Regions from separate parts of the Homo sapiens genome. Here regions 1 and 2 are each linked to region 3. Evidence: fine-mapped expression QTL. A gene starts in region 3. Each other region holds a variant in brackets. All regions are shown on one strand. Distances are from middle to middle. Region 1 has its middle 20 kb from the start of RCL1. Region 2 holds the start of LOC124902112 (a long non-coding RNA gene). Region 3 holds the start of AK3 (adenylate kinase 3).

Region 1 (4,241 bases), 32 kb after region 3:
TGCATCCTTCCTGCCCAGCACAGTGCCTGGCACAGAGTAGTTAAATCAATAGTTTTTGGGTGAATGGCATTAGGCCAAAGAGTTTTGATTTGAGTCAGTAAGCAATTTGGAGCTAACACACATTGTAAAGAAAAAAAGGACTGAAAACATAAGGATACTTTAGGAAGAATAATGAAGGCGGCTGGATGGAGATTAATTCTGGTTCTCCTTTATTAATAGCTTCCCAGTTGATAGGGCCTAAGGTTGTGACATGAAATTTCAAAGGGAGGGGCTGGAATCCTACAGAGGGTTTAAAGGAAGAATCAACAGAATTGCTATCTTCTTTGGCCGGGTGCAGTGGCTCATGCCTGTAATCCCAGCACTTTGGGAGGCCGAGGTGGGTGGATCACTTGAGGTCAGGAGTTTGAGACTATCCTGGCTAACATGGTGAAACCCCATCTCCACTAAAAAAAAAAATACAAAAAATTAGCCGTGCATGGTGGCGGGCGCCTGTAGTCCCAGCTACTCAGGAGGCTGAGGCAGGAGAACGGCGTGAACCCAGGAGGCGGAGCCTGCAGTGAGCTGAGATCACGCCACTGCACTCTAGCCTGGGCGCCTGGGCGACAGAGCAAAACTCCGTCTCAAAAAAAAATTAGGCATGGTATCCCACGCCTGTAGCCCCAGCTACTCAGGAGGCTGAGGCAAGATAAACCCTTGAACCCGGGAGACAGAAGTTGCAGTGAGCCGAGATCGCATCATTGCACTCCAGCCTGGGTGACAGAACGAGACTCTGTCCCCCTCCTAAAAAAAGAATTGCTATCTTCTTTAATATGACTTATTTGTTTGTTTGTTTATTCAGAGACAAGGTCTTACTCTGCCACCCAGGCTGGAGTGCAATGGCATGATCATAACTTACTACTACCTCTAACTCCTGGGCTCAAGTTATCCTCCTGTCTCAGTCTCTCAAGTTACTGGGACTACAGGTGCACACTGCCATTTCCTACTAATTTGTAATTTTTTTTGTAGAGATGGGGTCTTGCTATGTTGCCCAGGCTGGTCTCCACTCCTGGCTTCAAGTGATCCTCCTGCCTTGGCCTCCCAAAGTGCTGGGATTACAGGTATAAGCCACCACACCAGGCCCTTGAATATATTGATAAGAAGAGAGAGAGATGCATTGATGTTGTGAATCTGGTGGGCCAGAAAAATAGCATTACCTGTCTCTTCCGAAAAATGGCATGACTGGGAAGAACCTCAAATTTGAGTGGAAGATGAACTCAGTTTTTAAACATGTTGAGTTTGAAATGACCATAAATATTTTCTATGGGCTGCTGAAAAAAGCCTAGCTGGAAACATTTTTTGACATTTTGGTCAGCAATGGAACAATCACGGAGTTTATTATTACTGATTTCCTTGTTTGTAAGGTCAAGAAATTAACATAGATTCTATAATTCCAGCAGGAAGAAGAGAGTTAAATTTCTAAGAATCCTAAATTCTGTTCAACAGAATTTAAGAACACAACCAAAGTAATTTTCAACCTAGTTTTAAAAATTTTTATTTTTAGAAATGGGGCCCCACAGTGTTGCCCAGGCTGGAGTGTAGTGTCTACTCACAGGTATGACCATAGTGCATTACAGCATTGAATTCCTGGGCTCAAGCAACCCTACTGCCTCTGCCTCCTGAGTAGCTGGTACTATAGGTTTGTGCCACTGCACCTGGCTCCATTATTATTATTTTTTTTACATCAAACATGATCATTAATAAGTATACCATTATCTATTGGATAATACAAAGAATTTATTGTAAGAGTATTTGCCCTGATTTAATTTCTACTTTTGTATATTTTTCTGTGTTTTCTAAACTTTCTATGATAATGTAGTATTTTTATAAATCAGGAAAAAATAGGACACTTTTTTTAAGAAAAAGAAAAGACTCACTGTGTCAATTTCTGAATATCTTTGGGTTAAGCTTTTGCCTTACGTACACTAAACATATGTAAGCACCGAAGCTACAAAATGTTCCCAGAAATCCCTGGAAATTTCCCTCTAAGAAGTACACACATGTTGATATTTCCTGGAATTCATTGCAGCTAGTTTCCCTTTTCTGGTTTCAGACTGCTTTGGTCCCAAAACTAATTCGGCTGGAATTATGCAATAAATCCATT[T/G]TTCCAATACTTCTCCCTGAAGGGAAAATTCAGGGAATTGTCCTTTTTTAAATTATTACAGTTCCAGACCTAAATATTAGCCATTCTTCTTGATGTGGCTTTGATTTCTTAGACAACTGTCACATGAAAGGTGTTTTTTATGGGTTTGCTTTACTGTGCTAGGGCTTCTATTTTACCAGCAACCAGTTTGGGATGTGGTGGAGTTGGGGATATGACAAGGAAGGGGAGTAGAGAACAGTGCATGCCAAATGCAGAGACTTTTTTTTTTTTTTTTTGAGACAGAGTCTCACTCTGTCACCGAGGCTGGAGTGCAGTGGCACAATCTCGGGCTCACTGCAACCTCCACCTCCCGGTCCAAGCGATTCTCCTGCCTCAGCTTCCTGAGTAGCTGGGGTTACAGGCACCCGCCACCACGCCCGGCTAATTTTTTTGTATTTTTAGTAGAGACGGGGTTTCACCGTGTTAGGCAGGATGGTCTCGATCTCCTGACCTCATGATCCACCCGCCTCGGCCTCCCAAAGTGCTGAGATTACAGGCATGAGCCACTGCGCTCAGCCTCGCAGAGTCTTTTTTATTGTACTGAAGAATGGTCTACCAGACTTACAGGTGGACCCCAGGTCAATGACTGGGAAAGACAATGGTCTGGAATGACATTGAGGAATAGTGTACAAAACCGGGTATATTTCACTAGGATGAGAAGGTGGCATATTAGGGCTTTATTGCATGAGGGGTTAAGTTTGCTCCCATAACCAAAGCATTGCAATATGAGGAAGAAAGAAGTCAACTTGCCATGCAAAAAAGCATGTTTAAACAGAGTTATCAGGAAATGGACCACAATGCCTCACGTGGCATAAGCTGTCAATCCATGGGGGTTTACAATAAGACCCTAGAAGACCATGCTCTGGGTGTGGTGTATAGGGGAGCTGTGTGTTGGACAGAGTATTGGGCTTGGTCATCTCCAAGATCCCTCAAGCCCTGAAAACCTATGATTCCATGAATAATTAACAACTTAATTGACCTGTAAGCTGATATTAATTCCATAGATCATACATGTTTTTCTCTCAGTTACAGAGTAATCGTTTAGTACCTCTGTGCTGTTTCAAAGATAATACGTTTCCAATGTCTTCAATTGCATCAAAACCTGGGGTCTCCATAATATAGAGCCAAATTAAAGACTCTTTGCTTTATCAGTCAAGATAGGCTAGGTTATGTTACACTAACAAGCAACCACCAAATTTCAGTAGCTTGAAACCACCTCGGTTCATTTCTCACTCTGGCTGCTTGTCCTTGGGGAGTTGATTGTTGCAACATAGTGGTTCCTACTCCAAGACCCAGGCTGATGGAGCAGCTACTGGAAAAATACTGGTTGCCATGACAAAGGAAAAGAGGAGCTTCAGCATGAAAGTGACACAAGTAACTTCTGCTCACATTTCATTGGCCAAAGCAAAACACATAGTCACACCTAGGATTGGATAGGCAACATAGTGCATAGGCCTTATTTTAATGGGCAAATAAAAATATTTATATTATAAATAGCATATAATTTATAATTTTTAAAAATTTAGATGTGAGCCGGGTGCGGTGCCTCACATCTGTAATCCCAGCACTTTGGGAGGCCGAGGTGGGCAGATCACTTGAGTCAGGAGTTTGAAACCAGCCTGGCCAACATGGTGACACCCCATCTCTACTACAAATACAAAAAAATTAGCCAGGCATGGTGGCAGGCGCCTGTAATCCCAGCTACTTGCGAGGCTGAGGCAGGAGAATGACTTAAACCCAGGAGGTGGAGGTTGCAGTGGGCCAAGATCGCGCCACTACCCTCTAGCCTGGGCAACAGAGCGACACTCTGTCTCAAATAAAAAAAAAAAAAAAAGAGAGAAAAACTTAGATGTGAGTAGAACTTTTTTTTTCTTTCTTTGTTTTATTATTATTATTATTATACTTTAAGTTTTAGGGTACATGTGCACAATGTGCAGGTTTGTTACATATGTATACATGTGCCATGTTGGTGTGCTGCACCCATTAACTCGTCATTTAGCATTAGGTACATCTCCTAATGCTATCCCTCCCCACTCTGTGGCACATAGACACCATGGAATAC
Region 2 (4,241 bases), 24 kb before region 3:
GGAGTTCAAGACCAGCCTGGCCAACATGGCGAAACCCCGTCTCTACTAAAAATACAAAAATTAGCAGGACATGGTGGCACGTGCCTGTAGTCCTAGCTACTGGGGAGGCTGAGGCATAAGAATCGCTTGAACCTGGGATGAGGAGGCTGCAGTGAGCTGGGATGGCACCACTGCACTCCAACCTGAGAGAGAGTGAGACTCCGTCTCAAAAAAAAAAAAAAAAAAAAGAAAGAAGGAAAGAAAAAGAAAAGAAAAGCTTGAATTAACAGCAAAAGGCAGCAAAAGCCAGAAGGAGCCTAGAAAGACTTCTAAAATATCTCCTAAGACAGGGGCCCGTGTCTTTCACTTCATCTTCGCAGCTTTCCTTAACTTCCCTTACTACTTTTTTTTTTTTTTTTTTTAAGACAGGGTCTCACTCTGACACCCGCGCTCTAGACTGCAGTGGAGCAATCATAGATCACTGCAGTCTTGACCCACTGGGTCCAAGCAATCTTCTTACCTCAGACTCCCCAGTAGCTGGGACTATAGGCATGTGCCACCATGCCTGGCTAATATTTTTTTTTATGTTTTGTAGAGACAGAGTTTCACCATGTTGCCCAGGCTGATCTTGAATTCCTGCCTTTTCGATCCTCCTGCCTTAGCCTCCCAAAGTGCTGGGATTACAGGCATGAGCCACTGTCCCAGGCCCCTTCCCATATTTTGATATTTTGACAGAACGAATCCCAACAACCCCTGGTACTTCACTGCTTTGGGGGATTATCATTCATAGCCTTGCAGTGGTGGTGTTATCTGCCCAGCAACAATGCATTCTCCCTTCCTCTGGTTACCTTTGGGAAATAACCTCTCCACCAAACTCAGTCGACGAGGTTCAGGAGAGACTGTCCCCACTCCCCATCTTCAAGGATGGACATGATCAGAGCTAATCGGTGCCGACCCCAAGACTTTTGCTGGCAAAAGAGGCTCTTTGCTGCTGGGGTTTCTGGCTGGTAGGAGGTAAACTGGAAAGCTGAGGGGCTGCTACACAGGGAGGGCACACCTGAGACTGAAGCCAGCACAGGACAATGGAGCGGAGTGACTGACGCCTGATGATAGGTGTTTTTGAACACCTGGACCCATCCATCTATCTTTGACTTTTCAGTTACATTACCAATAAATTCCCCTTTTGCTTAACCTGGTGTGAATTAGGTTCTTAGTTAATATAAGCACATATCATATTGTATGATAAATACTGTTTACCCAGCTCCCCACCTCACCCACAAACATAGCTTCTTGGAGCCTGACAGGGACTGGATCTAATTGTCCATGTGGACCAAGGGCCTAGCACAGTGTCAAGAGAGTGAACAATAATTGCTGACAATGAATGATTTAATAGACACCAGGGCTGTTGTAGGACTTTCCAGGATCTCTCACTTAATTCTTTTAACAACCCTATAAAGCAGATGCTATTTAATATTGCCTGATTTTACAAATAAGGGATTTGTGGCATGGAGGTTAAATAGCTTGCCTAGGGCAAAAGAGACGGTAATTTTCAGAACCAGCCTCATTAAACAAATGACAAAATTATAGTAACAGCTACTACAAAAAATGGTTTGCCAACCTTGTAATTTTATGCTCCAGAAAAAATTAAGATGGTTTGAAAGGCCAGGCATGGTGGCTCGTACCTGTAATCCCAATGTTTTGGGAGGCCGAGGCAGGAGGGTTGCCTGAAGCCAGGAGTTTGAGTAGCCCGTGCAACATGGCAAGAGCCCCAGCTCTAAAAAAAATTTTTTTAATTGGCCAGGTCTGGTGGCACGGGCCTATAGTCCTGGCTACTTGGGAGGCTGAGACAGGAGAATTGCTTGAGCCCAGGAATTCAAGGCTGTAGTGAACTATGAAAGAACCACTGCACTCCAACCTGGGTGACAGAGTGAGACCCTGTCTCTAAAATAAATAAATAAATAACAGTTTGGAAACTATTGCTTCAGATTTCTACTGCATACATACGCTATTACAACAACAATAACAATAGCTAACATTTCTATAGTGCTTTCTATGCGTCAGGCCCAGTTCTAAGAGTTACCCATATTAATCTTTCAAACCTTTATTCTCTTCCCCAATTTACAGAGGAAAAAACAGGCAGAGGTTAAGCAGAAGGTGAAGGTGAAGAT[G/A]GTGAGCTGGGACTTGAACTTAGGTATTCTGGCTCCAGAGTCTGTGTTCTGCCCAAGATACTGTTCTGCCCTGATCAGGATCAGTATTCAATAAGTACATAAATGAAAGGGGAGGCAGTCAATCCTCTGTAAGAAGCAGGAAGGCTCAGTAAGAAAACTGGAGTATTTCTTAGCCTAAGTCAAATACTCATTCAGTACGGTTCCTATACGTGTTGCAGACAAAACAAGAGCAGACAAAACAATGTTAAAATGTAAGCTTTTAAAGACTGCTAGCCAATTACATAGTCTGAGGGATTAGCTGCCATCTGAGATTCTTCCACACCATAGCATCCTGTATTGGCAAATGTGGTGGGCAATATTAAGTTTGCCTCCCCAGCATTCATTCCAGCCCTGCCTCCCCTACCGACAATCCCCAGCTTACAATTATTCAATGCAGGATTTTTCAGCTTTATGATGGTGCGAAAGCAACATGCATTCAATAGAAATTGTACCTCGAGCACCTGTACAACCATCCTGCTTTTCAATTTCAGTACAATATTCAGTAAATTATGTGAGATATTCAACACTTTATTACAAAACAGGCTTTGTGTTAGATGATTTCGCCCAACTGTAGGCTAATCTAAGTGTTCTGAGCATGTTTAAGGCAGGCTAAGTTATGGTGCTTGGTATTTTCAAATTACAATGGATTTATTAGGATGTAATTTCATTGTAAATTGCGGAACATCTGCACATAGCAGAGTATGGATGAGACTGTCGCACTGCCAACTCTAGAAGTGGACTAGTCAGTGTAATCAGTGGAATCCTTCCCACCCCAATGACTGGTTCTGCAGTAGGCAGTAACCCAAGCCTGTAACAGTTAGTGCCAGGCATTCCCTGACTGTAGTTCAAGTTGGCTCCATCCGAGTGGTGCTCTGGGCTTCTATTCACTGGAGGAAAGGTTACCCCTCAGCCCTTCATAGAAGAGGAAGCCCTGGCTGTTCCTACAAATGTCTGCTACCATGCAGGAAGCCTAAGGACAAAGCCAATACACACACAGGAAGGCAAAACCAAGAGAACGGCTACACTGATCAAACCCAGGTGTGACTGAAGCCCAACCTACCTTCTGGACTTCTGTTACACAAGCTAATGTATTTCCTTTATTACTTAAGCCCATGTGAACTGGGTCTTTTGGCATTTTAGCATTTCAGCTGTAGAGGAAGGAAAATCAAAACTAGACTTAGTGCACCACTACGCAAGAGAAGTTCTGAAAAGCAAAAACTCACTGGTAATATTCCAGGACTGGCTTTGTTTGGTCTTCATAAGCCTTTAGTCTCTTGATAACCGTCTCTGGTTTATCATCCTCACGCTGAATGAGAGGCTCCCCAGTCAGGTCATCAATGCCCTAAACAGGATTAGAAGAGACTAGTATCAGATATCATATTTCTGAAAGATATTTTCATAAGCAGTTCAATTATTTTTAAACAGACATCTCTGTGCAAGTGCCAAGCACAAAAATGTGCTAACTTTTAAAAAAATGGAATCCAACCTCAAAAGAGATCATCGCAACAGAAACAGGGTACGCCAGTTTCATTTCTACAGTTATCAGTCACTTTAGCCTTAGAGTAAAAGGTTTTCTAAGCAGCCTCTAAGTAAGTTCATATATATTCAAAAAGATTCAGCTATAAACTTGGAATTTCAACTGCAAGTCCTAAATAAACCAAGGTGTTATGAATCTCTATCAGCGCAACTCCTAACACACTCCTTGGCAGAGCAGGAAATCAACAAATGTTTTTGAATGAGTAACAAACCCCTGCTGCTCCTGGGGCAACCTTTCGCACCAAGCTCAGTGGACTTGATCAGTCAACTCTACCAAGTAACCTGAGAATATACCCTCAGGAGTTTTGGTCAGAGGATTTCCAAGTTCACTCAACTTATGTCTGTTAGGGCAAGAGGACTCAGGGACAGTCTGCTATGTGACAGTTCCACAACAACTACTCACCACAGTTTTGGGAGGGTTGAATTCAATGTTATAGACTCGGCCACTGGCGGGATGAATCCAGCGAGCAGTAAGGCGTTGTTTAATGACCTCAAAGGGCACATTCAGGTTAATCACTG
Region 3 (4,241 bases):
TATAATAAATATGCTTTACTTTTTTTTTTTTTTTTTTTTTTTTGAGACAGGGTATCACTCTGTCTGTCACCCAGCTTGGAGTGTAGTAGCACAATCTCGGCTCATGACAACCTCTGCATCCCGGGCTCAAGTGATACTCCCACCTCAGCCTCCAGAGAAGCTGGGACCACAGGCGCGAGCCACCATGCCCAGCTAATTTTTTGTATTTTTGGTAGAGACGGGGGTTTCGTCATGTTGCCTAGGCTGGTCTTGAATTCCTGACCTCAAGTGACCTGCCCGACTCAGCCCCCAAAGTGCTGGGATTACAAGCATGAGCCATTGCGCCAGGCCTACTCTCCTAGACTTTGGTTAACCTGACCCCAACCAGTAGCAGTATCTGGGACTGTTTAATGTTACCTAACTACTTCAGTATGTCGCATTAACAACATTTAGCAAGCAAGTCAAACAATCTCTGTTCTTTCTTTCTTTTTTTTCGAGATGGGGTCTTGCTCAGGCTGGAGTGCAGCGTTGCAATCTCGACTCACAGCAACCTCCGCCTCCCAGGTTCAAGCGATTCTCTCTCCTCAGCCTCCCGAGTAGCTAGGATCACAGGTGCCTGCCACTGCGCCTCGCTAATTGTTTTTGAATTTTTTATAGAGACGCAGTTTCACCAAGTAGCCCAGGCTGGTCTAGAACTGCTAAGGTCAAGTGATCCGCCCGCCTTGACCTCACAAAGTGCTGGGATTACAAGTGTGAACTGGTTAAATAAATCATACTAGATTCAGAAAATACATACTACAAAAACAGAATGAAATGGATTTGTCCGTTTTCATGTGAAATATATCCCAGACACAAAGTGAAACCACACTAGTGCAGAGTATATACACATAGTATGCTCACATATTACATACAAGAAAAGATACACGTTGGCCGGGCGCGGTGGCTCACGCCTGTAATCCGAGCACTTTGGAAGGCCGAGCCGGGTGGATCACGAGGTCAGGAGATGGGGACCAGCCTGGCTAACACAGTGAAACCCCATCGCTACTAAAAATACAAAAAATTAGCCCGGCGTGGTGGCATGCGCCTGTAGTCCCAGCTACTAGGGAGGCTGAGACAGGAGAATTGCTTGAACCCAGGAGGCAGACAGAGCAAGACTCCGTCTCAAAAAACAAACAAACCAAAAAGAAAAAAAGAAAAAAGGTACACGTATCTGCGCTTAAAAAGTAAACCTTTCTAGAAGGAAAACTCTGTTCCCCTCCGAAGAATGGGACTGAGGTAGGGAACGAAAGAGGGCGTTGTTTTTTATGCTATGCACGTCTATCCTGTTTGCTATCCTTACAAAAAAAAAAAAAAAAAGAAGGAAAACAAAAGAAAAAGGCCTTGTGGAAGCATTATTTCTATGTAAATGGGTTTCAAAATGAGTTTCAAAACGGGTTCTATTTTGAAAAGTAAGGTCAACATTTTTTGAGAAAAAAACTCCTGCGATTGGCTTTTCAAAAACAACCCTCTTAAGAGAGAATTTACATACCACAAATTCACCCATTGTATAGTGTAGATTGTTAACTGCCTTTCGTGCCGAGCTGTAAGAATTTATTTGGCATGAGAAACAAAATATTTTATAGAACCATGCACAAGAATAGCCTTCGTGTCTACGAAATCTAAGGATATCAAAATGAGATAATTTTATGACTGCAACAAGGGTAAATAATACTTGGCCTTGGGAATATGGGGGAAAGGTCAGAACTACAAGATCTCATAGAGCTTAACCACACCAAAAAAGAAAGAGAAAAGAAAGAAACAAAGAAAACAAAACAGAACGAGCAGACTCTAGCAGGGCTAATGACAGTCTTCCAAAGGCACCAGCACGTTGAACAAGCTGCGGCTCAGCTCGATGGACCCCCAAGAGTGGCTGCCACTGGGAGGACTTGGGCCTCTGAAACAAAGCCCGGTGGTTTCCTTTCATCTCTGAACTTCGAGCTCGACCTAACTTTCCAGTCCCTTCCCCCACCGCCACCCCATAACCCGCCCGAAGCGGCCCACGGAGGCCGGAGGTTTTGGGGCGCAGTCGCTCAGCAGCCCGAGGTCTCTGTCCCGGGCGGCGGGAGGGAAATGCCGCGCCCGCAGCCAGGGACCCGCGTGCCCAGCTTCGGCCCCTCGCCCGCGAAGTCCGACCCGGGTGACAGCGCACGGCCGGCCCTGGGCCCAGAGCTCCCACCTGTGCCCCGCAGCATGTTGTCCCGGAGCAGGTCCCCGCTGGAGAGGTGCTTCAGCTCGAAGTGTGTAGTGATGCGCGACGACACGGTGCCCTTGCCCGAGCCCGGGGCCCCCATGATCACCGCTCGCAGCAGCCGCGCGGACGCCCCCATGGCCGCAGACTGAGGCCCGCACCGCGCGGGTACCAGGGCTTTGGCCTGGCCTGCGCGCTCACCCGCTCGGCAGCCTGCGCCGGCCGGCTAGCAGCGCCACTAGCAGGCGGCTACTGCGGTTCCCCGGCGTTCCCGGAAGTGAGCCGACAGCCCCTGGGGCCGCCCAGACAGCGCGGGACCCCGCTGTTGCGTCCGCCTCTCGGCTACCCCGGCGCACCCCCCGCCCCCGACCGAGCGCCTGTTCCCGCCCAGCCGCGCAAGCCGCGCAAGCCGCGCCCCCTCTGCGCTCGCTCGGCCGCCCAGCTCCCACCTGCGCCTCTCCGCGGCCCCTCTCCACCGGCCGCTGGGCCCGGATCCCTTCGGCGCCCCTCTGCACCCACCCCCACGCGCCCTCCACTCGGCTCAGATCTACCTCCGCGCCTCTCCGCGACCCCGGAACCCCGCGCCCTGTCCGGCCCATTCCCAGCCGGATAGACCGCGCTCCCCTCTGTCCGACCTTGGCAACTCCTGCGCGCCCCCTCCCCACCTCTAGTCGCCCCTCGGAGCCGCTTGGTTTCGGGATCCACCCGCATCCACCCCTCCAACAACCCTTTCGTAGCCCTCGCCCCTAGTCCATAGCAGGCGCTGCCCTACCCAGTCCTTGCCGGACACACCGCGACCCCTTTCGTGCTCCCTTGACAACCCTGGCCCCACCTCCACCTGGCGCCCACTCGAATCCGCCCCTCCCTTCTACCCCCCTGGACCGCCAGACCCCCCGCTTCTGCACCCACTCCCGCCTTCGCCCTTCCCTCCTTCCTCCTCCTCCTCTGCTGCCGAGCGCCCTCTCTTCCCACTCCCTCTCTGTGTAGAATCACAGGGAGTGACCTTGAGCCGAGAGGGCCTACCTCATTTTACAGGAGAGGAAATCCAGCTTCCATTGAGTGAGACTCTTTTATAAATAACGTAAAAGAGTGTGTGAAACTGTGGAGGCAGGCTGTTGTAGATAGGCGGTCGGAAAAGCTTTGAAGAGATGGCATGTGTGCTGAGTGCTTAATTAGAATATGGAAGAGAGAGACATGGGCCCTTCCTATGTCCAGTTTTAGGAAAAGGCCCTAAAACTGGAGGTTTGGCATGTTTCAAGAATGGAAACAGAGGACAAAAACGTTCGAGTGAGTATCATTTTGCCTGTAAAATGGGCATAGAGGAGTAGAATGGAGGAGTTAAAATAATGTAGTACTTAGTGCAATGCCAGCTACGGGGTCAATGTTCAATAATGGTTGTCCATTTATCATCATTGCTTTGTCCCGGACACTATGCTAAGGCAGAAAGAAGGCTCTCTGAAAATAAAACACAGTTACCATTCTCCTCAGAGGTCCAGAACTGATTTCAAAGAAGATAGAAATGACTTCAGGGTGAGACAGTCAGTGAATCGTAGCTGAGTGAATGGATGGGGGATTTCAATAGGTAGACAGCCTGGTACTTAGAAAAGGCATTAGCCTTTATACTTTCTGGTGTGGAAAAGAAAGAAAGAAAATACATACCTTGTACATTTTTTTTTCTTTGAGACAGAGTTTTGCTCTTGTTGCCCAGGCTGGAGTGCAATCGGCTCACGGCAACCTCTGCCTCCCGGGTTCAAGTGATTCTCCTGCCTCAGCCTCCCGAGTAGCTGGGATTACAGGCACACGCTACCGCACCCGGCTAATTTTATATTTTTAGCAGAGACAGGGTTCCTTCATGTTGCTTAGACTGGTCTGAAACTCCCGACGTCAGGTGATCCACCCGCCTTGGCCTTCCAAAGTGCTGGGATTACAGATGTGAGCCACCGCGCCCGGCCTCGTTTTGTTTCTTTGAGACGGGGTCTTGTTTTGTTGCCCAGGCTGGAGTGCTGTGATGCGATCTCAGCTCACTGCAACCTCT

What was found. PIP is the estimated chance that this variant, and not a neighbour inherited with it, causes the effect. A credible set is the group of variants that fine-mapping cannot tell apart.
Region 1: its variant is the best candidate, but not a certain one, in a credible set for the expression of AK3 in cerebellum (GTEx, PIP 0.64).
Region 2: its variant is the best candidate, but not a certain one, in a credible set for the expression of AK3 in whole blood (TOPMed, PIP 0.88).

What each region holds. Positions count from the first base shown.
Region 1 is chr9:4,770,940-4,775,180 of GRCh38, forward strand. No RefSeq gene overlaps it. Among named protein-coding and RNA genes, the nearest start is that of RCL1, 20 kb to the right of the region's middle. The variant T/G (reference allele first, on the strand shown) is at 2,141.
Region 2 is chr9:4,715,010-4,719,250 of GRCh38, forward strand. AK3 (adenylate kinase 3) reads right to left here. Exons shown (of 5, transcript NM_016282.4): 3 at 4,126-4,241; 4 at 3,410-3,528. It overlaps LOC124902112 (a long non-coding RNA gene), which reads right to left and starts at 3,403. Exons shown (of 2, transcript XR_007061401.1): 1 at 3,247-3,403; 2 at 2,065-2,273. The variant G/A (reference allele first, on the strand shown) is at 2,148.
Region 3 is chr9:4,738,743-4,742,983 of GRCh38, forward strand. It overlaps AK3 (adenylate kinase 3), which reads right to left and starts at 2,460. Exons shown (of 5, transcript NM_016282.4): 1 at 2,195-2,460. The coding sequence starts at 2,345. RefSeq lists silencers at 1,990-2,129, 2,360-2,849.